Homo sapiens: one gene and its partners. The protein of the gene in region 3 purifies or fractionates together with the protein of the main gene of each other region. This does not show direct contact. Each region holds a gene or a part of one and is shown on either strand. Other genes may lie near its edges.

The links.
Region 1: the proteins of CPSF6 (region 3) and P3H1 purify together in Homo sapiens (affinity purification with mass spectrometry; 2 studies listed by BioGRID and IntAct, with this or other methods). This does not show direct contact.
Region 2: the proteins of CPSF6 (region 3) and SAFB purify together in Homo sapiens (affinity purification with mass spectrometry; 2 studies listed by BioGRID and IntAct, with this or other methods). This does not show direct contact.
Region 4: the proteins of CPSF6 (region 3) and PCF11 fractionate together in Homo sapiens (co-fractionation; 2 studies listed by BioGRID). This does not show direct contact.

Annotation. Positions count from the first base shown.
Region 1 is NC_000001.11:42,750,023-42,757,048, reverse strand, and holds part of P3H1 (prolyl 3-hydroxylase 1 isoform 1 precursor), read left to right. Parts: intron 1-593; coding exon of another isoform or gene 594-648; intron 649-1,411; coding exon 1,412-1,501; intron 1,502-1,831; coding exon 1,832-1,884; coding exon of another isoform or gene 1,885-1,952; intron 1,953-2,058; coding exon 2,059-2,180; intron 2,181-4,384; coding exon 4,385-4,512; intron 4,513-4,679; coding exon 4,680-4,775; intron 4,776-6,712; coding exon 6,713-6,863; intron 6,864-7,026. UniProt on the Homo sapiens protein: Basement membrane-associated chondroitin sulfate proteoglycan (CSPG). Has prolyl 3-hydroxylase activity catalyzing the post-translational formation of 3-hydroxyproline in -Xaa-Pro-Gly- sequences in collagens, especially types IV and V.
Region 2 is NC_000019.10:5,626,073-5,633,098, forward strand, and holds part of SAFB (scaffold attachment factor B1), read left to right. Parts: intron 1-332; coding exon 333-417; intron 418-7,026. UniProt on the Homo sapiens protein: Binds to scaffold/matrix attachment region (S/MAR) DNA and forms a molecular assembly point to allow the formation of a 'transcriptosomal' complex (consisting of SR proteins and RNA polymerase II) coupling transcription and RNA processing.
Region 3 is NC_000012.12:69,242,549-69,249,574, forward strand, and holds part of CPSF6 (cleavage and polyadenylation specificity factor subunit 6), read left to right. Parts: intron 1-7,026. UniProt on the Homo sapiens protein: Component of the cleavage factor Im (CFIm) complex that functions as an activator of the pre-mRNA 3'-end cleavage and polyadenylation processing required for the maturation of pre-mRNA into functional mRNAs.
Region 4 is NC_000011.10:83,167,116-83,174,141, reverse strand, and holds part of PCF11 (pre-mRNA cleavage complex 2 protein Pcf11), read right to left. Parts: intron 7,018-7,026; coding exon 6,834-7,017; intron 6,728-6,833; coding exon 6,244-6,727; intron 5,715-6,243; coding exon 4,147-5,714; intron 2,325-4,146; coding exon 2,228-2,324; intron 1-2,227. UniProt on the Homo sapiens protein: Component of pre-mRNA cleavage complex II, which promotes transcription termination by RNA polymerase II.

The DNA of each region.
Region 1 (7,026 bases), on a different chromosome or scaffold from region 3:
GGGGAAATAAACCCACGTGGCCAATCTAGCATTTTTAACTAGAAGTCCCCTTTTGGAAAGAAGGCAACTAACATTTGTTGAGCCGCTGTCCAGGCGAAGCTCTGTGCGGGGTGGGCTGTATCCATCATCTCATTTAATCATCACAGCCACCCTGCAAGGTTGGCACTCTTCTTCCCACTTTAGGGATGAGGACTGTTAGCATCTGAGAGATGAAGTAACTTGTGCAGTGGCTTGTGGCCAGTCAGTGGTGACCGGAATCTGTTCCCTGCTTGGACCCAGTGCAGGCACAGCTCCAGACACATGGCTGACACTCAGTAAATCAGCATCGAATGAATAAAGATGGAAGTGGGGTTTGCTTCATAGCAGCCTTATAGGGTCATTGGAGAGGGTTAAATGAGATAACATAGCATTTGGTGACAGAAGCCAGTAATGTAAACTCCTGAAGAGAAAACGTCTCTCTTCCTCTTAGGTAAATATAGTAGATGACATAGGATTCATTGACTCCTTTAATTCCTCCTTGAACTGCCTCATGTTTTATTTCAACTGATGTCTCCTTTTTCTCTTCCTTCCTCCTCCTGCTGCTTGGAGATTAGCAGGGCACCTAGGGAAAGATGTGACCCCGGAAAGTACTCAGTTTCCCTGCCCTGGGTAAGCCTTGCCTGGGAGTCCATGTGGGAAGCCCAGAGTGCCAGGCCCTCCCCTTTAGCTGCTTATCCTCAGGGAGGGGTGTGGTCTGGTTAGGGTCTGAGAGGAGGCAGGTGGCAGAGCAGAAAGCACATGGGCTTTAGGACTGTAAAGACCCGGCTTTATCTGTCCAAATGCACATTCTGCTATGAAAAAAAAGAAAAAGATAACAGAAGACCTGGGTTTGACTGTAGGTCGCTGCTCTCCCATGTCCTGTAGTGTCACCTTAGACAGTGGTACATCTCCTCTGTGCCTCAGATGCTTCCTCTGTAGAATGAGCATACTAGTATCAACCTCAGATGTGGCTATAAAAGATCAAATGAATAACATGTCAGTTGCCTAATGCCTGATTCCTTTTCCTGCTTTGTGGACTCCTGTAGAAGTCAAGAAGGAATTCTCCTTCTTTGAAGAATATTTCCACTTTTGAGAATCATCAGATTATCTGTCCTAGAGACTAATGGGGGTTGGGATGGGGGAGGAGCAGGGCTTTTTCCCTTAAGGAAAGCCTGGTTATTCCAGTACCTCAGAGGTACTGTTGCTTGTGCCAGGCAGAGGACACAGAAATTAGACTTTTGTCTCAAACTGGGGAACAGACAGAGAGCATTGGTAGGGAGAGGAGGCCTCAGGTCACATGGGAGCATCAGTGTGGGGTGCCAGGGAGGGGAACTCCCAGAGGTTAAAAGACAGGGCTGAGTTCTGGGGGATTTGTTTGCTTTTTTACCCTCAGAGTGCCAAGGAGTACCGACAGCGAAGCCTACTGGAAAAAGAACTGCTTTTCTTCGCTTATGATGTTTTTGGAATTCCCTTTGTGGATCCGGTGAGCTAGGGTACAGGAGCCGGAAGGGAGCGGGGAAAGAGTGAGCAGGAGAGATGAATGGGGAGGAGGGGAACACTGTGCGATTCTGAGAGAAAACTTGCTGGAGGCTGAGCCTAGCCTGGGATCTGTGCAAGGCAGGGATGAGAGACAGATGAAAGGGGAACACTGGGCAGCTAGAAGGGACTTAGATGTGGAAACCTCCCATTTTGTCTCCTGAAAGGAAGAGGGTGATAAGCTGGATTACTCCTGTGGGCCTTATTTTATGCATTGAGACACCTGGAAGATTAAGTAGATCATCTTACCTTTTTCATTTCTTCCTGACCTACTTAGGATTCATGGACTCCAGAAGAAGTGATTCCCAAGAGATTGCAAGAGAAACAGAAGTGAGGACCTTGAAGAAACTGCATGGTTGGATCAGTCTGATGAAGCACTTGAGGCTTCCTGAGCCCAGGCAGATGTGAACTCCTGGCAAGGGGTGGGCAGGTCCAGTTTGGGAAGTCGGGGTGGAGCCCAGGGCTGGCCCTGGAATGCAGTCCTCAGAGCGGCTGTGCTCATAGGTCAGAACGGGAAACAGCCGTACGCATCTCCCAGGAGATTGGGAACCTTATGAAGGAAATCGAGACCCTTGTGGAAGAGAAGACCAAGGAGTCACTGGATGTGAGCAGACTGACCCGGGAAGGTGAGAGGACAGAAATAGGGGCATGTCTGGCTGTTGTCAGGGAGCCAGGCAGGTCACCCCACATTTGCCAGGCAGCGCTCCACCCCAGCATTGCAGAGCTCACCATGAGCCAGCCACCCTTAGGGTGCAAGTTCAGTGGACATCCTTCCTAACTCACCAGCGGGACTTTCAGCTGGAAAGAGCACTGAGAATCAGCCTTTGGCTCAGAAATCAGACTCCAGGATGTAGTGGTGCACACCCGTAATCCCAGCTACTTGGCAGGCTGAGGCAGGAGGATCGCTTGAGCCCAGGAGTTTGAATCCAGCCTGGGCAATATAGCAAGACCTCATCTTTAAAAAAAAAGAAAGAAATGAGACTTCTGTGTCACAGAAACATGAGTGACTAGTGTTGTCCACTTCCATAGGTATTAACTCATCCTGTCTCCCCACTCCCAAACTGTTTTCTCCCGGTTTTCACCATTCGTCCCTTTACTGAGACTCAACGCCTTCAGGCCTCCTTTGGCTCCTCTTCCTCCTGTGCCCGTTTTCTGCAAGCTGCTGGGAAGGCCTACTGATTGTGGCTCTGCTCTGCAGTGCTTCTCAGCTCTCTCCCCAGCCTTTTCCGTTTTTCATTGCCTCAGGCTTCCTTCAGGCCCTGGCACCTCCTATCTGCACCCACCCTTTCCCCGTCTGGCCTGTCCTTGCCCCTGCCCACACAAGGTAGCTAGGCCAGTCTTCCAGACACTGGCCTCTGACCCATCCTCCGTGCCTGCCCCTTAACCGAATGTTCTACTCTTGTCCTGTTTACACCGTCTCTTCACACAGGACTGCACTTTGTTCCGTGAGCCCGCCCACTGCCCACCAGTCTGTGTTTATGCCTGGCTCTCCTAGTACGCTTCCCACCATCCCTGCCCATGAGGGCATCTGAGATATACCCTGCAAAGCCTTTCTTTTTTTTTTTTTTGGAGATGGAGTCTTGCTCTGTTGCCCAGGCTGGAGTGCAGTGGTGCAATCTTGGCTCACTGCAACCTCCACATCCCGGGATCATCAAGGAATTCTCCTGCCTCAGCCTCCCAAGTAGCTGGGATTACAGGCATGTGGCACCATGCCTGGCTAATTTTTTTGTATTTTTAGTAGAGATAGGGTTTCACCATGTTGGCCAGGCTGGTCTCAAACTCCTGACCTTGTGATCCACCCGCCCTGGCCTCCCAAAGTGCTGAGATTATAGGCATAAGCCACTGTGCCCTGCCGTAAAGCCTTTCTTAACCTCCCAGATGATTGGAGTCCCCTCCTTTCTTTTGAACTTCTTAGGGCATTTATGGTCTGTCTTATGCTAGTTATTTGCATAATTGTTAGAGAACAGGTACTGTCTTCTAGGATTCATCTCTCACCCTATCTGGCACAGTTCCTGGTACACACTGAGGCCTCAGTTATCAAGTGGAGTTGAACTGAGTCTCTAGTATTAGTATGTCCCTAGCACAGAGAAACACCATGAGAACTGTAAGAGAGAAATGTTGACCTTTGCCCTATAGTTGCTTAAATTAACAGTGGTTAATTAAACAAGATTAGCGTATGAAAAGAATTTGTCCAGCATTCCTTTGTTTTCAGACCACTTTCACTTTGTTATTTCTCTTGATTCTTATAACTGAGAGGTGAGTCATGCAGATTGCAAGATCCTTATTTTAAATGAATAATGATGATGATACCATGGTAGCCAAACTTTTGAGGACTTACCATATGCCAAATATTGTACTAAGCTTTTAACTTGCCTTCCTTGTTCTTAACATTATACTGGCATCAAACATATAAGGTAGATGCTGTTTGACAGATGAGAACATTTTAATTAATTAAAATTAACCTCAGGGAGGTTAAGTAACTTGCCAAGGTCACACAGCTAATCAATGGAGGATCTAGGAGTCAAAGTCAGTTCTTCCTCGTTCCCGAGCTCATGTTTTAGGATTGTGTTTCTGATGTTTCCTCAAGAGTGTGTCATGGCCCAAAAGCCAGCAGCTATTTGGTCATGGAGCTGGGACTGGGAATCTCATCTTTCAGCTCTATGTTCTGTCCTCTGGACTATTCTACCTTTGAAAATGACCTAGCGGGAGATTTTGCTGGTGAAAAGGAAACAGCTGGAATTTCTATTTGTGACGAGGAGGCAATATCCAATGGAGAGTCTTTGGTCTAGCTGCTGCTAGATTTAGCTAGAGTTTTGTCATTGCTTTGCAGGTGGCCCCCTGCTGTATGAAGGCATCAGTCTCACCATGAACTCCAAACTCCTGAATGGTTCCCAGCGGGTGGTGATGGACGGCGTAATCTCTGACCACGAGTGTCAGGAGCTGCAGAGACTGACCAATGTAAGGGAAGCCCAGTGACTGCACCTTCCCCCAAGGGTCCAGCATCCCCCCACCAAGTGCCCCTTGGGTGGTAGCCTTCGCCTTCCTCTTCCTGGCCACAGTTGACCACCTCTTCTCAAGCCCTCAGCTGCCCTGGCTAACATCACCTTGTGTTTTGGGCCTTGTAGGTGGCAGCAACCTCAGGAGATGGCTACCGGGGTCAGACCTCCCCACATACTCCCAATGAAAAGTTCTATGGTGTCACTGTCTTCAAAGCCCTCAAGGTAAGATCAACACTGGGCATTCTAGAGTGTGGAGAAAGGGGTGGGGAAGGGGGAAGCTCAGGCTTTGAGGAAGAGTTGGGGCTGGTGGCAGGAAAGGTGAAGAGGGTCCACCTGCCAACATTCTTGTTGCCAGGAAGCGAGGATGAGTTATGTTGCGTGAGGTTCACTTTTGAATCCTGTTAGACCGAGTGTAATCAAAACAAAGTGAGCAGGATAAGACTGTTCGCCAAAGCTATGAGAATGCTTTCTTTAGAAAGGCTGATTCTAGAGGGCTGTGCTTCTGTGCAGGATGCACAGTGTGCTCATAAAGAGAGATAAGAAGGACAGGAGGAAGAGGAATATAGTAGGGGTATTGGGCGTGGGCAGCAGAGGCTGCAGCTTCAGTGGGGGTGTGGGGACGTGGGATGGGCCTGGTACTCATTGTCTCTGGCCCCTAAAGAGGGGCGTTGTGTTAGTCCGTTTTCACACTGCTGATAAAGACGTACCCGAGACTGGGCAATTTACAAAAGAAAGAGGTTTACTTGGACTTACAGTTCCATGTGGCTGGGGAAGCCTCACAATCATGGTGGAAGGCAAAGAGGAGCAAGTCACATCTTACATGGATGGCAGCAGGCAAAGAGAGAACTTCTGCAGGCAAACTCCCATTTTTTTATTTTTTATTTTTTATTATTTTATTTATTTATTTATTTATTTATTTATTTTTTTTTTATTGATCATTCTTGGGTGTTTCTCGCAGAGGGGGATTTGGCAGGGTCACAGGACAATAGTGGAGGGAAGGTCAGCAGATAAACAAGTGAACAAAGGTCTCTGGTTTTCCTAGGCAGAGGACCCTGCGGCCTTCCGCAGTGTTTGTGTCCCTGGGTACTTAAGATTAGGGAGTGGTGATGACTCTTAACGAGCATGCTGCCTTCAAGCATCTGTTTAACAAAGCACATCTTGCACCGCCCTTAATCCATTTAACCCTGAGTGGACACAGCACATGTTTCAGAGAGCACAGGGTTGGGGATAAGGTCACAGATCAACAGGATCCCAAGGCAGAAGAATTTTTCTTAGTACAGAACAAAATGAAAAGTCTCCCATGTCTACTTCTATCCACACAGACCCCGCAACCATCCGATTTCTCAATTTTTTCCCCACCCTTCCCGCCTTTCTATTCCACAAAACCGCCATCGTCATCATGGCCCATCCCCAATGAGCCGCTGGGCACACCTCCCAGACGGGGTCGTGGCTGGGCAGAGGGGCTCCTCACTTCCCAGTAGGGGCGGCCGGGCAGAAGCGCCCCTCACCTCCCGGATGGGGCGGCTGGCCGGGCGGGGGGCTGACCCCCCCACCACCCTCCCGGACGGGGCGGCTGGCCAGGCAGAGGGGCTCCTCACTTCCCAGTAGGGGCAGCCGGGCAGAGGCGCCCCTCACCTCCTGGATAGGGCGGCTGGCCGGGCAGGGGGCTGACCCCCCCACCTCCCTCCCGGACGGGGCGGCTGGCCGGGCAGAGGGGTCCTCACTTCCCAGTAGGGGCGGCCGGGCAGAGGCGCCCCTCACCTCCCGGACAGGGCGGCCGGCCGGGCGGGGGGCTGACCCCCCCACCTCCCTCCCGGACGGGGCGGCTGGCCGACCACCCCCCCCGGCCTCCCTCCCGGACGGGGTGGCTGGCCGGGCTGAGGGGCTCCTCACTTCCCAGTAGGGGCGGCCGGGCAGAGGCGCCCCTCACCTCCCGGACGCAAACTCCCATTTTTTTAAAGCCACCAGATCTCGTGAGACTTATTCAGTATTATGAGAACAGCACGGGAAAGATCCACCCCCATTATTCAGTCATCTCCCACCAGGTCCCTTCCACAACACATGGGAATTATGGGAACTACAAGATAAGATTTGGGTAGGGACACAGAGCCAAACCATATCAGTCGTTGAGGGCAGCTGACCATCTGTCTCCTTGGCAGCTGGGGCAAGAAGGCAAAGTTCCTCTGCAGAGTGCCCACCTGTACTACAACGTGACGGAGAAGGTGCGGCGCATCATGGAGTCCTACTTCCGCCTGGATACGCCCCTCTACTTTTCCTACTCTCATCTGGTGTGCCGCACTGCCATCGAAGGTGGGCCTCATTACCCCTGCAGCACCCGCCCCCGCATGCTGTACCTCAGCTCTGTGCTGGATGCTGAAGACACAGAGAGAACAGGATGCGGTCCCTTTTCTTCAGTTGGGGAACCAATGTAAATACATGGGTGGCATCCCAGTGTGATGCATGCCACAGTAGC
Region 2 (7,026 bases), on a different chromosome or scaffold from region 3:
GAGTGCTTCCTTTTCATGGCTAGTAGAGTCCTCACAACAGCCTTCCAGGGTAAGTACTGTATTATTATTAGCCGCATGTTCCAGAGGAAGAAGCAAAAACTGAGCACCTAAGTAAACCTGCCTGGGACCACCCAGCTAAGAACTGGTGGCGTCAGTCGGTCTCCAGTGTAGAGCGAGATAACAGATGAGTGGATGGGCCACAGGTCCTGGGTGGTGAGGGCGGCAGCAGCTTTTTGATCTTAAAAATACAGTTTCCTTGTCACCTGAGAGCTCTCTGAAAGCAGTGTGTGAGCTGACTTTTTGGATCAACTTTACTTTTCCCTTCTTTTTAGGCAATTGAAGATGAAGGTGGTAATCCTGACGAAATTGAAATTACCTCCGAGGGAAACAAGAAAACATCAAAGAGGTCTAGCAAAGGTATGGAGGATTTCATAAGCAAGTTTCATGTTAAGTGCTTTCTTCAAAACGAATACATTGCTAATGTGCCTCGTTTACTTGTCTGTGTGTTGGACTTGTGAACCACTCTGAACTGGGAGCCTTCAGCGAAGCTTTGCATTTTCTTTCAAGATCTCTCTACTGTGTTTTGTTTTCTTGGTATCTGGGAATTCCAATGGAGGATGGAAGGAGTATTTGTCCTTTATTCATTTTCCTCTGTAGATTGTCAGCGGTCCTTAAATAAGGAGTCTTTTGGGAGTCAGTCACAGTGGCGTGTGCCTGTAATTCCAGGCGACTCGGGGCTGTGGTAGGAGGATCACATGAGCCTGGGAGTTCAAGACCAGCCTGGGCAACATAGCAAAACCCAGCTCTACAAAAAAACTTTTAAAGGCCCGGTGTGGTGGCATGCATCTGTGGTCCCAGCTGCTTGGGAGGCTGAACCGGAAGGATTACTTGACCCCAGGAGGTTGAGATCAGCTTGGGCAACATAGGGAGACCCCCATCCCCACCAAAAAGAAATTAGCCAGGCATGATGGCATGCACCTGTGATCCCAGCTACTTGGGAGTTTTAGGAGGGGGATCACTTGAGCCCAGGAGCTCAAGCCTGCAATGACCTAATGATTGCACCACTGCACTCCAGCCTGGGTGACAGAGCAAGACCCAGTCTCTCTTAAAAAAAAGGGGGGTGGGGGCGGGGCACAGTGTCTCTCACCTGTAATCCCAACACTTTGGGAACCCAAGGCAGGAGAATGGTTTCAGTCTAGGAGTTTGAGACCAGCCTGGGCTGCCTCTATCCACTGCCAAAAAAAAAAAGTACCTAGGCGTCGAGGCACGCCTGTTTTCCTAGCTACTTGGGAGGCTAAGGCGGGAGGATCATTTGAACCCAGGAGTTCAGGGTTGCACTGAGCTATCATGGCACCACTGAACTCCAACATGGAGTCCAAAAAGTAGGACTGCCTGAGCCTCCTATTGCTTGGACTTGGAGAAAATAACATCCCTTATAAACAGCACTTGGCAAAAACAGAATTGTCACTTTAACATTTCTTTTAAAAGCAGCTTATACAGTAAAAGTCACATTCCACATGACATGACTCTCACCATCTTACCGAAATCTCTCTTGCCCATCCCCCACACCCTGTGCTTTAGTCAGGCCCCAAACACGTGATTTACTCTCCTGGTTCTCTGTGACTTCGCTCCGCCCACCCTTCCCCATCTGTCTGCCTTAGAGACCTAGTTCCTCAAAAGACAACTGATCCATCCCACCAATAGCAACTCGTCTCCTTGGGTCCTCTGTCCTCCCGTGGCATAGTTCCTTACCCCTTGGTTTAATATTTATGTCATCTTGCCTTCTGTCAAGAGCAGATTGATGAGGACTAGGGCTGTGTCTTGTTTATCTTTCTTTCCCCTTCAATGGTTTAACTTGGTAACACTCAACTATTGGCTTAAGAAAGAATCAGCTGAGGCAGGGCGCCGTGGCTCACACCTGTAATGCCAGCACTTTGGGAGGTTGAGGCGGACTGGTCACCTGAGGTCAGGAGTTCGAGACCAGCCTGGCCAACATGATGAAACCCCGTCTCTACTAAAAATATAAAAATTAGCCAGGTGTGGTGGCGGGCTCCTGTAATCCCAGCTACTCAGGAGGCTGAGGCAGGAGAATTGCCTGAACCCAGGAGGTGGAGGTTGCACTGAGCCCAGATCGCACCACTGCACTCCAGCCTGGGCGACCGCAAGACTCCATCCCCCTAAAAAAAAGAATCAGCTGAAGCTGGGCTTGTAGACCGAATGTTCTCTTGGTTCATGTAGAGTTTTCCCTATCTGAAATGCTTGGGACCAGAAGGGTTTCATTTTTTGGATTTTGTGCGGTATTTTCGTACGCATAATGAGATAATCTTGGGATTGGGGCCCAAATCTAAACAAGAAATTTGTTTCTTATACACCTGAAGATAATTTAATACCATATTTTTTATAATTTTGTGCATGAAACAAAACTTTCACTAATTCCACACATCAGGTGTGGAATTTTCTACTTGTGGCAATATGTCAGTGCTCAGAAGGTTTCAGTTTCAGATAGGGTTGCCCAACCTGTAATTGAAGGCCTGGTTCTCAGGGCCCAAAACTAAATGAGATAATAACTAATACTTGGTGGTGAAGTACTGGGTTTAAATATCTGAGAGTCAGGCCCCAGTGTCAGCCACAGTGTTTGGGGTAAGTGCTGGGAGAACAGCAGAATGAAGTCACTTCTGTGGCTCATGATACATTGCGTGTTTTTGCCTTTACTCAAGTATACTTCTGCCAAGGCAAAGAGTCCTGGAAAATCAATGGAGAAAGAAATAATAAAAGCAAAAAACAGAGCCTGTGGATCTCCTTTTTTGTTTTCCTTTTTCTTCTGATAAAAGCAAATACTTGTACTACAGGCTTTTGTTGCTGTTTTTGTTTTGTTTTTGAGGTGGGTTCTCACTCTGTCACTCAGATGGAGGGTAGTCGCGCAGTCATAGTTCGCTGCAGCCTTGAACTCCTGGCCTCAAGCAGTGCTTTCACCTCAGCCCCACAAAACGTTTAGATTTCAGTTGTGAGCCACTGCGCCCGGCAGGTTTTAAAATACGTGCATGGGAGTAAAAAGCAGAAGTTGTTCACAGTCGGGACAGCCCACTACTAAAAGTTAGGCATACTTCTCCAGACTGTGTGTGTATGTACAATGTTTAAAAGTAAACTTAGGCCTGGGTTACAGAGCAAGACCCTGTGTCTAGAAAAACAAAAAGTTAAATAAAAGTCAATGAGCTGGGCATGGTGGCACACACCTGTAGTCCCAGCTACTAGGGAGGCCAAGGTAGGAGGATTGCTTAAGCCCAAGAGGTCAAGGCTGCGGTGAGCCATGAGTGTGCTTCTACACTCCAGCTTGGGCACAGAGTGAGAGGGGGAAAAAAGTAAATATATAGGTATGTGCACACACCTGTATGCATATTTTTTTCATTAAAAAAACCCGTGATCTTGCTATACAAAATCTCACTGTTTTTTAACAGGCTAATAATCTTCTGTATGAATAAATACACAATTTAGCCCATCAGTCTTTTTATTACTAGACGTTTGGAGATTTTTATTTCCAATTATCACTCGGTACTTCCAACATTCAGTGTTTGCACGAACCAGAGATAAATACCTTTGTGTGGTCAAAGTAATATAATTTTTGATAACTTAGTGAAAGGAGAATTCTAGACTCCAAGGATATGGCCCTTTATTTTCACATAGCTAGTTTACAAATAGCTGTCCCGGCCAAGTTCAGTGGCTCACGCCTGTAATCCTAGCACTTTGGGAGGCTGAGGTGGGCGGATCAAAAGATCAGCCTGGCCAACATGGCAAAACCCCACGTCTACTAAAAATACAGAAATTTGCCAGGTGTGGTGGTGGGCGCCTGTAATCCAAGCTACTCAGGTGGCTAAGGCAAGAAGATAGCTTGAACCTGGGAGACTGAGGTTGCATTGAGCCAAGATAGTGCCACTGCACTCCAGCCTTGGCGACAGAGTGAGGCTGTCTCAAAAACAAAAACAAAAACAAAAAGCTGTCCCAGGTTGTACCCTACCAACAATGGGTGACGGTGCCTATTTCACTAAACTCAACATCAAACTTACCTTGTTTGCCTGTTACCTTGTTGCCTGTTATATAGAAGAAAAGTATTTCATTGTATTTATCTGCATTTTTCTGCAGGTGAGATTTTCGTTTGCATTTCTTCACAGATTATACTCTTCTGATAATTGGACATTTGTGTCGTCTGAATGGCCTTTTCATGCCCTTTGCCGATTTCTGTGCTGGGTTGTTTGTCTTATTGAGTTATAAAGACTCATATAAAATGTTTCTATTGTTTTAATCTGTCATTCAATTTAATCTGATTCGACTTGTGGTATTTTGATCACTAGGCTTCTAGATTTTATGTTACGCTTTAAAAGGACTTCTTTGCTTTTAAATTATTAAAAATATGACTGTAAGGCCAGGTGCGGTGGCACACGTCCGTAATCCCACGATGCAGGTGGATCACCTGAGGTCAGGAGTTCAACACCAGCCTGGCCAACATGGTGAAACCCTGTCTCTACTAAAAATACAAAAATTATCTGGGTGTGGTGGCAAGCGCCTGTAATCCTAGCTACTTGAGAGGCTGAGGCAGGAAAATCGCTTGAACCCGGGAAGCAGAGGTTGCAGTGAGCCGAGATCACGCCACTGCACTCCAGCCTGGGCGACGAGTGAAGCTTCGTCTCAAAAAAAAAAAAAACTATATGTATAACTCTGTTATATATAGAAAGAATAATATTTATGGTTTTATTTTTACATTTTACATTTGGAGGTTTAATTAATTTAGAATGTATTTTGCATGTGGTGTGAGGTAGGTAGGGATGAAAACATGAAACATTTAGGCTGGGCGTGGTGGCTCATGCCTGTAATCCCAGCACTTTGGGAGGCTGAGGCGGGCAGATCACCTGAGGTCAGGAGTTCGAGACCAGCCTGGCCAACATGGTGAAACCCCGTCTACTAAAAATACAAAAATTAGCTGGGCATGGTGGCGGATGCCTGTAATCCCAGCTACTCGGGAGACTGAGGCAGGAGAATCACTTGAGCCTGGGAGGCGGAGGTTGCAGTGAGCTGAGATCATGCTGCTGCACTCCAGCCTGGGCAACAGTGCAAGACTGTGTCTCAAAAAAAAAGAAAAGAAACATTTGTCATCAGAAAGATCACTTCTGCCCCTCCCAGTGCGTCTCCCCTCCCAGCCCCTGCAAAAATAAAAGTCGCTGTTGTGATTACTTCACCAGATATTAGTTTTACCCATTCTAGAACTTCATGTAAAATGGAGCCATGCAATACTAGCTCTTTTGTGTCTCATTTGTTGTTTTGTTTTGCTTCTTGTAATCAGTTTTATTCTAGAAATTTACAGTACATTTTGATATCTGATAGGGCAGGTCGGTAAGTTTTCTTGAATTATTTTCAACTACTTTATCAGTGGGTTTTATCAAGATTTTAACTGAAAATAGAGGGACTGCTGTAATGTGTGAATTCAAAATGCTTTAAAATTCCAGAAAGCATATCTCATGTAATCTCAGTTCTCCTCCTATTGCTTGGACTTGGAGAAAATGACATCCCTTTTAAACAGCACTTGGCCAAAACAGAATTGTCACTTTAACATTTTTTTTAAAAACTGCTTATACAGCAAAAGTCACATTCCACATGACGTGACTCTCACCATCTTAGCAGACTCTCAAAATAATTATCAGGGGCTGTGCGAGATGGCTCTCGTCTGTAAGCCCAACAGTTTGGGACACCGACGCGGAAGGATGACTTGAGCCCAGGAGTTGGAGAGCAGCCTGGGTGACATAGTGAGACCCCATCTCTCCAAAAAATTAGAAAAATTAGTCAGATGTGATGGCGTGCATCTGTAGTCCCAGCTACTCAGGAGACTGAGGTGGGAGGATCACGTGAGTCCAGGAATTTGAGGTTGCAGTGAACCATGATTGGGCTGTGATTGCTCTCCAACCTGGTAACAGGGCAAGACTCTGTCTCGAAAAAATAAAATAATTACCAGGAAACTAAATTTATTTGTAGTGTCATCACAAAGTACAAATTAATAGGATGTTTTATGGTGTTTGAGAATGTTTTGTAACTGGAGATGCAAAGTTGGCCTGTTTGCTTGGTTAAGTATTACCCAATCCTTTGCTGCTGGCTTGTTTTGTTCAGTTTTTGTTCATTTTGGCAATTTCATACTTAAGTTGCAAGAATAATGCAAGGAATTCCCATATACCCTTTACCCAGAGTCCCCAAATATTGCCATCTGACTACATTTGCCTTGTCCTTTTCTCTCCTTGTATGTATGTTTTTACTAGACCGCATGGTAAGTTGCAAGGCGCATATGCCCCTTTGCCCTACGTACTGCAGTAAAGTAAGGATATTACCTAACTGTAGATGTCCAGATCAGGAAATTAACATTGATACAATACTGCCACCTCGTCTTAGTCCTCATTTAGATTCAGTAGTTTGTTCCAATAATATTCTCTATAACTCAGACAAAAAATGTCCAGAGTCATGCATTGCATCAGGTTGTCATGTTTCCTTAGTTTTCTTTAATCTTGAACACTTACACTTATTTTGTAGTTTATTTTTCTATTTGAATTGTTTTGGGTTCTCCCCGCCCCATAATAAGGATCAAGTTATACGCTTGTCAGAAATACACCAGACATGTTGTATTCCTGTTTTTTGTTTTGTTTTGGTTTGAAACCGGGTCTTGCCCTGTTACCCAGGCCAGAGTGCAATGGTGCAATTGTAGGTCACTGCAACCCTGAATTGCTGTGCTCAAGCGATCCTCCCACCTTGGCCTCCCAAAGAGTTGGGATTACAGACATGAGCCACCACGCCCAGCCTATATTGTCATCAGAGTATACTATCCAGAGGCACATGCTGTCAGTTTGAGCCATTATTGGCCATGTTAGCTGACTTCAAATGCTATTGGCCAGGTTTCTCCACTGGAAAGTTACTGTCTTCCTTTTCACAGTTACATTTGTGGGGAAGATACTCTGAGACTTTGTAAATATCCTGCTCATCGTCCATTAGTTTTAG
Region 3 (7,026 bases):
GAGGCACAAGGGACTGGCTACTCCTTATGGGTTCTCTTTAGTTCTTAGAGGTCTTTGGATGTCACCAAGCTGAGAACAGCTGGAAGGGGAATTTGAACATCTTCCAAACCTCTCTATTACTTGAAGTTGAGAAGAAAGTGATTCTGTCTCACAGTAGCATATCAATTCAGTTTAAACTGCATTTATACTCAAGTGTAGTAATTACTAGCCCAATATTTAGTAATTGTAGATTTTAAAATTCTGGCCAAAACTAAATAATTTAAAAGTTGAATTGTTTAGCGCGAGTGTGGTGGCTCATGCCTGTAATCCCAGCACTTTGGGAGGCCAAGGTGGGCAGATCGCTTGAGGTCAGGAGTTGCAGACCAGCCTGGCCAACATGGTGAAACCCCATCTCTATCAAAATACAAAAATTGGCCGAGTATGGTGGTGCCTGCCTGTAATCCCAGCTAATCAGTAAGCTAAGCAGGAGAATCGCTTGAACCTGGGAGGCAGAGGTTGCAGTGAGCCAAGATCGGGCCACTGCACTCCAGCAAGACCCTGTCTCAAAAAAAAAAGATTGAATTGTTCAAAATACATTTGTTGAGTGTCTGTTATGTGCCAACAACGAGGGATACAAAGTTTAGGTAGTCTCTACCCTTAGAGTACACTGTAGGGGAGCTGAGAGATACCTACATACAGTAGTGCACACGTATCCACAGTTCCACTTTCTGTGGTTTCAGTTACCCGTGGTTCTGAGGTCTGAAAATATTACATACAATAAGGTAGTTTGAGAGATACTATATTTAGCTAACTTTTATGACAGTAAACTGTTCTACAATCATGTGTCGCTTCACGATGGCGGTATGTTCTGAGAAGTCCATCTTAGGTGCTTTTGTCATTTGTGATCATAGAGTGCTTTTGCATTTCAAACCTGGAAGGTACAGCCTACTACACATGTAGGCTATATGGTGTAGCCTGTTGCTCCTAGGCTACAAACTTGTACAACATATTACTGTACTGAATACTGTAGGCAGTTGTAACACAGTGGTATTTGTGTATCTAATATATCTAAACAGAAAAGGTAAGTGAAAATCTTGATATAAAAGATAAAAAGTGGCACACTTGTGTAGGGCACTCATGAAAGGAACCTGCATGATTGGAAGTTGCTCTGGGAGAGTCAGCAAGTGAGTGGTGGGTGAATGTGAAGATCTGGGACATGCTGCTGTAGACTTCATAAACACTGTACAGTACACTCAGGCTACACTAAATTTATTTAAACTTTTTTCTTCAATAATACATGAGCTTACTGTAATGTTTTCACTTGATTGATTATTTTCTCACTGTCATCCAGTCTGGAGTGCGGTGGTGCAGTTGTGGCTCACTGCAGCCTTTATCTCCCAGGCTCAAGCAGTCCTCCTGTCTTAGTCTCCAGAGCAGCTGAGACTACAGGCATGTGCCACCATGCCTGGCTAATTTCAAATTTTTTTTGTAGGGATGAGGTCCCAGCTAGTCTCCAGCTCCTGGGCTCAAGCTGTCTTCTTGCTTTGACCTACCAGTGTTGGGATTACAGGCGTGAGCCACTGTGACTGGCCCGTTTTTACTTTATAAATTTGGACTCTTCAATAATAACAGTTTAAAATACAAACACATTGTGTAACTATATAAAATATTTTCTTTATATCCTTATACTGTAAACTTACTTCTTTTTTTTGTTTTGTTTTGTTTTGAGATGGAGTCTCGCTTTGTCACCCAGGCTGAAGTGCAGTGGCGCGATCTTGGCTCACCGCAACCTCTGCCTCCTGGGTTCAAGCAGTTCTCCTGCCTCAGCTGGGATTACAGGCACTCACCACCATGCCTGCCTAATTATTGTATTTTTAGTAAGAGACGAGGTTTCACATGTTGGCCAGGCTGGTCTCGAACTCGTGACCTCAAGTGATCCTCTTGCCTTGGCTTCCCAAAGCGCTGGGATTACAGGCATGAGTCACCACACTGGGCCTAAACTTTTTTCTATTAAATTTTTTTTTTTAACTTTTAAAATTAATTTTATTTTAGAAGAGACAAGGTCTTACTGTGTTGCACAGGTCTCAAACTCCTGGCCTCATGTGATCCTCTTGCCTCAGCCTCCCAAAGGAGGCTGGAATTACAGGCATGAACGACTGAACCTGGTCTTTTTTTTTTTAAGCTTTTTTTAAAAACTAAGATATACACACATTAACCTAGGCCTGCACAGGGTCAGGATTATCAATATCACTGTCTTCCATCTCTGCATCTTGTCCCACTGGAAAGGTCTTCAGGGGCAGTATGATGCATGGGCTGTCATCTCCTAGGATAACTGCCTTCTTCTGTAATACGTGGTGAAGGACTGACTTGCCTGAGGCTGTTTTACAGTTAACTTTTTGAAGTAGGAAGAGTACACTCTAACATAATGATTAAAAGTATGGTATAGTTGGCCTTGGTGTGGTGGTTCACACCTGTAATCCCAGTGCTTTGAGAGCCTGAGGCGGCAGATTGCTTGAGGCCAGGAGTTCGAGACCAGCTTGGCCAACATGTCGAAACTCCGTCTCTATTTAAAAAAAAAAAAAAAAAAGTGTAAAAACAAAAAAGTATAGTATAATAAATACATAAACCAGTAACACAGTCGCTTATTGTCAAGTATTGTGTACTGTACATAATTGTATGTGCTATTCTTTTATATGACTGAGAGCACAGTAGGTTTGTTCACACCAGCATTACGAGCCCAAACGTGAGGAATGCATTGGGCTAAGATCGCTAAACAATAGTAATTTTTCAGCTCCATTATAATCTGACCACCTGGACCAAAACATTGTCATGCATGACTAAATTGTTCTCTTTTATTAGTTATTTTTTACAGTGCCTACTTTATAAATTAAACTTTATCGTAGGTATATATAAAGAAAAACATAGTATATTTAGGGTTCCTTGCTTTCCGTGGCTTTAGGCATCCACTGGGGGTCTTGGAACATATCCCTCTCAGATAAGAGGGGACTACTATAATTATAGCACACTGACAGGTCCTATATTGTAGTTACCATTCTTTTATGTTTTATGTGTAAAGTTTTGTTGATCTGGAGAGGAAAGTCAAAAAAATTCTGTGAACTTTAGGGAAACTTACACTGCTTGCATTGAAGTAGTATGTTTTGTTGCTTGTTTGGGAGTCAGAAACTCTTAATGTGGAATTTAGTTTCTGCTCTGTCAGGCCATCACCGATAGCACAAATTTAGTAATCTGACCACCCAGCTTTAAAATGGAAGTGTAGGCCAGGTGCGGTGGCTCATGCCTATAATTCCAGCAGTTTGGGAGGCTGAAGTAGGCGGATCACTTGAGGTCAGGAGTTTGAGACCTGCCTGGCCAACATGGCGAAACCCCTGTCTCTACTAAAAATACAAAATTTAGCCAGGTATGATAGTGCACACCTGTAATTCCAGCTACTTCAGAGGCTGAGGCAGGAGAATTGCTTGAACCTGGGGGGCAGAGGCTGCAGTGAGCTGAGATCAGGCCACTGTACTCCAGCCTGAGTGACAGAACGAGACTTTGTCACACACAAAAATAGATTAATTACTTTTAAAAGAATGGAGGTGTATAGAGGCAGTAGTTGGAACAAAGAATTCACTTAGGAGTTACGGACCTGGACATCCGATAAGTCAGTTTTTATGTCATGAATCATTTTGCTTTACGTTCAGTCATTATGTATGTATTCTAGCCAATTGTTGAGCCAATTAATGAAAATAAATTTCTTGGACAAATATCAGAGAAACATTGTTTATGATTTATTTATGTTTACTAGAAAACCATCTGAAATAAAGCTGTCAGGTTGAGAATGAGCTAGGTAGAATTGATTCAGAAAAATGGATAGAAATGTTCAGGGAAGCTAGAACTCTTCTCTATTTTGTTATTTATGGGTGCAGTTAATTTAGTTGCCTGTGAATTGTCCACTATGGTTTATGTGGCATATTTTTAGTACCAAATTCCTTACCATTATATAAGGAAGGGATTTTTACAGGGATTACTAGCCAGTTTTAATAACTACTGAGAACATAATTAGATAAAACCAGAAAATGATATATTTTCTTTAAAAATGTATGCATTAGGTTATCTGCTATTGGATTTTGCATACTAGTATTTCTTTTCCGAGGTATAGGATATATTTTGTAAATGCAAAATGTAACTTCCCCCCTTCATATATTTCTCTAAATGGAAATAATTTAAAATAGGCTTTGAAACAAGTGGCCTTTGCTGTGCATTTACTGATAGTATCATATAATGCACGAATTTTGTATGTATTTATGTATTTTTATGGTAGAGATGGGATCTTCCTAAGTTGCCCAGGCTGGTCTTAGACTCCTGGGCTCAAGGGATCCTCTTGCCTTGGCCTCCCAAAGTGGTGGGATTAACAGGCATGAACCACCATGCCTAGCCTCGAATGATATTACTGTAATTTTAGAACCATCAAAAAAATATCAGGCCTGTCAGGGAGAATGATGAATATTTTGACAGCCAACAAGTTCATCCCAATAGTGGTATACAGTATGTATCGTATATCTGTGATATTAAAATTGTAAGAGGGGTAATTAGGGAAAAAATGTCTAAAAGTAACTTCTTGAAGGGAGGGAGGAGACAGGGATAATGAAAAGGTTGAGAAGCCATACTTTAAGGGAACTAATAGGATTTTGGTCATTTTGCCATCCATTTTCTCTGGCTTGGCAACAGATATTTGTATATCATGTGGAGCATAATCTTGTTGTGTAAAATGTTGAGAGAATACCTTGTCTAAAGAATGATTGTAGTGATTTAGAATGGTAGGGAATGAAAAAAATTAGTGAGTTTTTTTTTTTTTTAAACAAACCCTAAGAGCTGTTGTTTATTCCAAGCTTTATGTAACATAGCTGGCTAGCTACTATGAACAGCAGATAAGATTGGGCAACATTTGGTATCAAAGATAATTAGAGGAATGATGTTGATATTTTCTTGTTTTTTGAATGCCATTAAAATTAAAAGTAATAATTGAAAAGACCCTTCATGTAATAAAAAATGATACCGTGAAATATTTCTTTGACAAACTGGAAACCTTTTTTTTAGTCTGTTCAGTAGGCTCACAGAGCTTTATTTATATATGACCTGTGATATACATTTTGCATAATTTCTCATGCAAACATCATGCATATTTTCTCACTTTATGAAGTAAGAACAAAGTTCAGTATGTTCTGTATTTTTTTTTACGCTGGAGGATTGATGTGATATGAAGCTGATTAAAAGGAAGGTTACTGATAACTACAAAAGAGTGTGCTTTGAGTTTCATTTTTAGTAATGGCAGCAAATGTATTCAGATTCATTATGTTTTTTCACAAAGTTTAAATGTATACCATTGGGGCTAAGTGTACAGGCTGTGGCCTTGGAACAGAGAGAAGCTAACTAGTCCACATGGAGATCAAACCCCAGGACCATGGTCTTAATTAGGATCGTACTACAACCACTTGGAAGCAGTACAACTACCAGACAAAATGGCTGATCCTAAATATTGGTAGAATCATATCAATGTGGAAAATTGGTTTGTGTCAACATAGGAATTCATGGATGGACAAAAATAGTAAGTGATTGTGATATACCAGGTTAGTGTAGCTGCAATTATGCTTGTAAATTTTTTGTCTACTTATGTAAACATTTTCACAGGTTTGTAGCTAATAGAAGAAAACAAAGAATCTGTTCACCTATTTATGTAAGTGAAAGTGTAAATTTAAAAATACATTTAGTCCTGCTGTTAATAACCCTTCCATTCTTTTTTACTTTCCCTCAGACCATATATTGTGATTATAGTTTCTGCTGAGGAGGATGGAAACTCAACTCCCTTTGAATAATATTAGTAATTCTACTTGATGTTCAGAACCGGATTGCAAGAGAGTTTAAAGTGCCCAACACCCCTTGTGGGAAACTTTTTAGTATCTTAAGTGCATGGAACTACTGCTGCAGCCACACCGCCTGAAGCTTCAGCCACACTGAAACTTCATAACAAAACTTACCCTCTTTTTTCCTAATTTCTGTGGTCATTGCAATTTGAGCATGTTACTTTGTTTAACAAAAACTCATTTCTTAAAGATTATTTTAGTATTGCTGTACAAACAGAATAAAATTATGGCATTATTCAGTGACTTGTGGTCTTAGTTTCTGCCCTTTGTTAAATTTAGCTTTGTTCTCTGATTTAACCTTGAGATCCCAGACCCCTTATTAAATAAGTCTTATAGACATTCTACCTCGTAACAAGTAAAATTGGTATGTAAAGATTCTGTAACTAGTAAATTGGATAAGTCATTAATTACATAAACGATTACCTGATGATTACTTGAGGTCCCTTTATTTAGGAATATAAATGATATTTCCCCTACTAGGCTTTTTTCTTTTTCTTTTAAAAAGATCTTATTCTCGGCCGGGTGTGGTGGCTCACACCTGTAATCCCAGCACTTTGGGAGGCCGAGGCGGGCGGATCACGAGGTCAGGAGATCAAGACCATCCTGGCTAACCCATCCTGCCTAACACGGTGAAACCCCATCTCTACAAAAAATACAAGAAATTAGCTGGGCAAGGTAGCGGGCGCCTGTAGTCCCAGCTACTCGGGGGGGGGGGGGGGGGCTGAGGCAGGAGAATGGCGTGAACCCAGGAGGCGGAGCTTGCAGTGAGCCGAGATTGCGCCACTGCACTCCAGCCTGGGCGACAGAGCAAGACTCCGTCTCAAAAAAATAAATAAATAAAAATTAAAATTAAAAAAATACAAAATAAATAAAAGATCTTATTCTGGCTCTCCTTTAAATAGCAAAACAGTAGCCTGGGCCCATAATATCTTGTTGCTCTGTTTACCATCATATAACAAATGCTTTTCTCTGGGTCATTCTATCCATTTAGGGACTATTTTGGCTAATAGTCCCTAAAACCATTAGCTCCTCCATATGTGCCATTTGTATAATTCTTTAGTAAATTGTATTAATGGGAGAATCTGTAAGTTACGTCTGAACTTTCAGGTTGTCTTATAATTGTCTT
Region 4 (7,026 bases), on a different chromosome or scaffold from region 3:
CCTAATGTCCCATTCAATACCCCCTAACAAGGGGAATAATTATGATTTCCTCTGTGACACTGCTATGTCCTGTACACATACACATATAACCCAAGGTTGTAAAAGCAAAACAAGGCTGGGCACAGTGGCTCATACCTGTAGTCCCAGCACTTTGGGAGGTCAAGGCAGGTGGATCACCTGAGGTCAGGATTCAAGCCACCCTGACCAATATGGTGAAACTCTGCCTCTATTAAAAATACAAAAATTAGCCAGGTGTAGTGGCATGTGCCTGTAGTCCCAGCTACTGGGGAGGCTGAGCCCGGGAGAACTGCTTGAATTCAGGAGGCAGAGGTTGCAGTGAGCTGAGATCATGCCACTGCACTCCAGCCTGGGTGACAAGAGCAAGACTCGTCTCAAAAAAAAAAAAAAAAAAAAAAAAAAAAGAAAGAAAGAAAGAAACAAGAAAATTTGTAGTTTCTGTAGAGCATCTCATGCCACTAACCCCAATATAACAAATCCTCTGCTCAACAATAAAAACTGAGTTCTAAAGGAAAATACATTAATATAGCACTTGACAAGTTACAAGTTACAAAGTACTTTTGCATATACTATATCATTTGATTCTCTAAAAAAAAAAAAACAACAACAAAACAGACAAATACTGATACTACCATATCATGTTTTTTTTTTGGTTTTTGGTTTTTTTTCTGAGACGGAGTCTCACTCTGTCACCAGGCCTAAGTGCAGTGGCCTGATCTTGGCTCACTGCAACCTCCACCTCCTGGGTTCAAGCGATTCTCCTGCCTCAGTCTCCTGAGTAGCTGGGACTACAGGCATGCACCACCACACCCAGCTAATTTTTGTATTTTTAGTAGAGACGAGGTTTCACCATGTTGGCCAGGATGGTCTCCATCTCTTGACCTTGTGATCCACCTGCCTCGTCCTCCCAGAGTGCTGGGATTATAGGCGTGAGCCACCATGCCCGGCCCATATGCTGTTTACAGAGGGAAAAAACTGAACCTCAGGGGAGATACTTGCTTAAAGCCTGCGCATTTATAAAGTAACATAGTAGAGATTCCAACCCTGGTCTTCTGGGCTTTAGATCCCAAATTCTTTCCTTCTCTTTTCATTATAGTAACAAAATAATAATAATAACAAATATTAATTAGTCATAATTGTCCATGTAGAAATTAAAACTTAAAAGCTTCCAAATTCATTGAATTTCTTGACACAATTTAAGGACTAATGTATAAAAAAGAGCTTGGCTAGGATTTCCTAATTACTTCAGAAGTTTTGGAAAACTCCATAAATTTATTGTAAACTGATTAACTCAATACTACAGTAAAGCATGTTTCTGAAACAGCTGTTTCAATGATTCAGAAATGAAAGCAAGTATCACTAATGTATGTACTTCCCTATTACCACATATTAAAACTAAAATTCATTTTGCCGGGCATGGTGGCTCACACCTGCCATCTCAGCACTTTGGGAGGCTGAGGTGGGCAGATCACTTGAGGTCAGGAGCTCGAGACCAGCCTGGCCAAGATGGTGAAACCCCGTAAAAATACAAAAGTTAGCCCAGTCTGGTGGCACACGCCTGTAGTCCCAGCTACTTGGGAGGCTGAGACAGGAGAATCGCTTGAACCCCGGAGGCAGAGGCTGCAGTGAGGCAATATGACACTACTGCACTCCAGACTGGGTAAGAGAGCAAGATTCTGCCTCATAAATAAATAAATAAATAAAACTAAAATCCATTTTAAAAGTCCTTTTATCTAGTACTAAGCATCACCCCATAGTAACAAAGATGCTTATCAGTGAACCTGGCTAGGAAAGCCGCTTTTTGCTATTTGAGTGCCCACAAAAACATAAAAATTAATCAACTTTATTAATGCAGTATCCTCAGTATTCACTGAGATTTCTAAGGTCTGTCATTTATTTCATTCTATCTCAACACAAATGTCATACCTTCCCTCCCACTCCCAGTTTCCACCCAATAGGTTTCCTTCCCTTTGTTTAGTGGACTACAAGTCCCCGCTAACCATCTCTAGCTGTAAATAGGGTCATTATGAATACACATCCACAATGTAAATAAACTTAGAAAAGGAACAAAAATATGTCAGCCAGATTAAATTTCTCTAAATTAAATATACCTTTGCAAAACTGTCATTTCCTAAAATTCACAAAGTTAGCTATTCAACAAAACAATAATCATTTGTCTTTTGAAAAACAAAGTTCAGAAAGTACATACCTGAAGGATTCTGAACAAATCCAGGATTTTGTGGATGAACTGGTAAAAACTGTTGTCCTTGACCAAAAGCTACTGGCTGAGCAACACCACTCAGAACCTTTAAGAAAAACCTTAATTTTAAGAACATGCTTTCTATATTTCAAGTAAAACTTTTAACATCCTAATTACATAAAAATATTCATAGATGTCACAAGGCCTGGCTTATAAATAAAGATTTAGAAAGATAACTTGGCTGCATCACTTCACTTCTAGGTCTTCTACAAACAGGAACAATAAAACCTTCCCTTATCTGTTTCATAGAGGTATAAGTTACTGAGAATGGGTTAAAACTTCTTTGAAAAGTTTAAGGTACCTACTAGAGAGGCAAAGTAGCCCCCCAAAAAGGAAACTGTAAGATACCATGCAAATATAAGGTAACTAGCTGTGTTACTTTACACAAGTCACTTTACCTTGCTGGTGCTTTCCCTTATTTTACAAATAGAAGAACTGACATAATGCAATATGATCTATACACAATCACAAGGGCTAGTTAGGAGCAAAACTGAGGCCAGAACTCCTAACCCTTGCCACTTTTCCACAGATATCAAAAGCCTGTTCTAATTAGCATTCTGAATTACCAAGCAGGTAAGCATCTTGCTTGGCCATCATCTTTGCACATGGTTATAGCCACATTACAAAGTAATCTTGTAAAAGGTCTTGTAAAAGATGTCAAAGGGAATGTTAAAAAACAGAATAGTCATGGAGCAAGAACTATACTGGCATACAAATACAGCATTTGCAGTCCAGAGGGAGGCAGGACTTCTACATATTGCTGGTATGTGAATAAATATCCATTTATAATCCTTGTTCAGTATACATGTGGACTTTTGGTAGTGAGTACACATAATAAAAACCCCACCGATTCTGTGTAATGTAGAAACAAGACTAAGTAAGTACCATTCTAGAGTATCTGTCAATAAGAGTATCATTTCTTTCAAGGATATACAGTAGAGTAAATCTAGGCAAGCCAACTGTTTTTTCGTACCATTAGAGATGAACAGAAGGACTACTTTCTATCAATAATGTTCCTAATGTACTTTTAAAATCTTTCTTATTTTGTATTTTCTTCCATGCAATCTTACTACTATAAAATAAATCTGTCATAGTAAGAAAATGTCTGCACCTGGAAAAGAAGTAAAACTCAGCCTAGGAGAATTTCAGCACGCAAGCAAAAGTAGTCATTCAAAACCAACCGAATTAATCACAAATTGTAAACATACTGCCTTAAAGTTGTCTCAGTATGCATTTTAAAATGTATACAGAACAAGTGTGAAAGAATACCAACAGGTAACAGTGCATGTTTCGTAACCAGAGTGTATTTGGAAGGCTATTCGCTATGTTGTCATTAATATCAAACAATTGTGTTTAACTGAAGTGACTGGAAAGGTGGTAAAAAGTAGGAAAAAAGGACCAAAAAAAAAGAATTGTAGACTGTGAAAGCAGGGACACAATTTGATCTTCTTATTTAACTCAGGTTAAGGAAATTCTTGGTCAAAGAACAGTTCAATCAATTCTATGGCTACCTTAAAGCACGTCAGGGCTCAACAGTTCTGCAATGTAGAGGTCTATGACACACAATTGTATAATATCTCAAAAGCTTTAAAGCAAAAAAAAAGGAAAAAGAAAAAACAGAGCTGGAGGTGGGGGTTTGATTGAGATATTTCCCTAGATCCTGAAAGAGCTAAAATCAATTTTGGATTTAAGTTGCAAATTTCATCCCCAAAAGATGCTCATCCCACTTCCTTAGCATGTGGCTTTAGAGTACATTAAAAACTTCTTTCCAATCTACACAATAAACTATGTCCTGAAAACCCTCCTAGAAACATTAAAAAATGGTTAACTTATCTGCATACAACGCAATTTTAGAATAACAGACTTACCTGTTGAGATGCCTGAATATTTCCTACTGTCATTGGAGCAGGTATATTGCCAAAGTTTCCAAATTGAGAACTCTGAAGATTTTTTTCATCAAAATAGTGTCCAGAAGCTCTGTTAAGTGGATTAGAGAAACTCTGGTTTCCAGGGCCATGTGGTCCATTAAAATTTGGTCCTTGAGGTGAATCAAATATTTGTTCATGTCTTTGGAACTGTAGTCCTTGGGATGGGGCATTAAAAGCATTGCCAGGTGGATCATTATATGGACCAGTCTGATTGAAAGATACTGATTCAAGCCTTTGTGAAGGATGATTGTCAAATCTTGTGCCTTGAAGACCAAGAGGAATATCAAACCTTGATGCTTGCTGATGTTGTGGACCATCAAATCTTTGAGGTACACCGTCAAATCTGGGTTGAACCTGCTGTCCAGGTGGTCCATCAAACCTCTGAGGGCCTGGCTGACCAGGAGTCCTTTCAAATCTAGGACCTGGCTGACCATGTAATCCATCAAATCTTGGCAAGAGTGACGGCTGACCTGGCTGCCCATCAAACCTTAAAGCATGACAACCTTCAAATCTTGGACCACCTTGACCCAGAGGCCCTTCAATTCTCAGGCCACCTCCTGGTACAGAAGGACCCTCAAACCTCATTCCACCTCCTTGTTGGACTAAAGGGCCTTCAAACCTGATACCAACCCCTGGCTGACCATGTGGACCCTCAAACCTAAGGTTCCCACCAAGTTGATTATGTTGTCCCTCAAATCTCAGACCAGCTACTGACTGACCATGGGGGCCCTCAAACCTCATTCCAACCCCTTGCTGTAGCAAAGGGCCCTCAAATCTGATTCCACCTCCTGGCTGACCATGAGGTCCATCAAACCTAATCGCAGCCCCTGATGGACCATGACCCCCCTCAAATCTAAGTCCACCTACAGGCTGACCTCGGGGATTATCAAATCTAAGTCCACCCACAGGCTGACCATGAGGTCCCTCAAACCTTAGACCACCCACAGGTTGACCACGATGTCCCTCAAACCTCAGACCACCCACAGGCTGGCCTCCTGGTCCCTCAAATCTCAAACCACCTGGAGATCCCTCAAACCTCAGACCAGGGGAACCTTCAAACCGAAAACCACCTCCTCCTGCTTGACCAATTGGGCCCTCAAACCGCAGAGGTGTCCCCACTGGTCCTGGAGGACCTTCAAATCTCAAAGGACACCCACCTCCTAGCTGACCTTGTGGCCCCTCAAATCTCAAAGGGCCTCCTCCCCCCATTTGTCCTGGTGACCCATCAAACCGAAGAGAAGCTGGTGTGGGAGGTCCATCAATTCGAGGGCTTAATTTATTGGGTCCTTCAAAAATCATCTTCGTTGGGCCATCTCTTGCTACTGATGGCCTACTAGGTCCATCAAATAACGGTCTGTCTTCAGCTAAAGCTGTAAGTCGCTGATTTGTATCCAGGCCGGCGAATCTTGATGCTGGACTATCTACAAATGGTTTATCTGAATCTTCATATCGAGGTCGCTTAAGTGGAAAACGATCATTGAATGGAGATCTCTGCTCTTCTCGCACACCTTTTAAAAAGGAAAAAAATTATTTTCACTAAAGTTATCTTAAAATCTTCTATTTTCGTATGAATGTTTATCCAAATATATAACTATCTCACTACATTAGAGGGGCAGGAGAGACCGACAGCGTAAAGCAGCAGATAAGAGGATGCCCTCTAGAGTCAGACACACCTGAGTAACAAAAAAATTACCATCCTATCAACATACTAATTATTTCATTTTGAGAGCAAGTTATTTAACCTCTCTTTTATTTCCTATCTGTAAAATAGGGAGAATATACACTTCATTGTATTGTTGTGAGGATTAAATCAAATTACATATAAAAAATACCTAATGAAGTACCTGACACACAACTGGCCTTAGAAATATTAGCTCCCTTCCCTTCCCTTTCCTTAAAGGGAAAAAACATAACAAAATAAATGGGAAAAAAAATGGTAATCTGAACAGTCACAAAAATCCATCCCCACTTAGCTTGTTCATTTTCCCTTCACTGCTGTGTGATTCAATAGGCATAATCTGATTTAACTTTTTCTACCTTTAGCAGAGACTTGCTCGTCATGTCTTCTCCGGCCCTCATGGGGTGAAAGATTCTCAGCATAAGTACGACTCCCAGATATAGGAGAAAGACGTCTTGCTCTTTCACTAAATTGTTCTTTTCTGTCAAACTGTGCTCCACTATTCCTACTTGCATGTTTACTTTTGGATGGCTCACATTCTATTCCAGACAACAAGGCATCAGTCAAAGGGTAGTCAAAAATATCAGGATCTAAGAGATCAAGTCTTGGAAATGAATGCTGAACCTGTGTCCTTTTCAGTTTTGCTTTATGTTCATAGTAGGTTAATTCAGCATCAGATAAGAGAGGTTTCTTTTTTAATCCACCTTTATTTTCTTCTGTAGGACTATCCCGTACATTGCATCTATGTTTACCTTCTTGATACTGAAATAGCTGTCGAATTTGATGCACAACAACAAGGAAGTCATCCTGTGTAATTTCACCAGATGCTAAACGTTCACTCGTCTGTATAGGGGTGATAAAAGGAAATAAAATATTTTAAATATAAAAAAATACCAAAAAAATAGACGATAGATAATGATGACTACATGGGATTAATCATAGTAACTACCTTTTGAAGTAATTCTCTTTTGCTTGCAAGAGTTAACTCTTTAGGAATCTGAAGATTGGCATCTACACTTAATCGATGCTGTTGCTGCTTTGGGGCTCGAGGTGATAAAATTCCTTTAGTGCTTGACCAGCTCTCCCTATGCCTCAGATGAGGAGGTTTACTATGTTCATCAACCTGTTGTAAGCTGAAACCA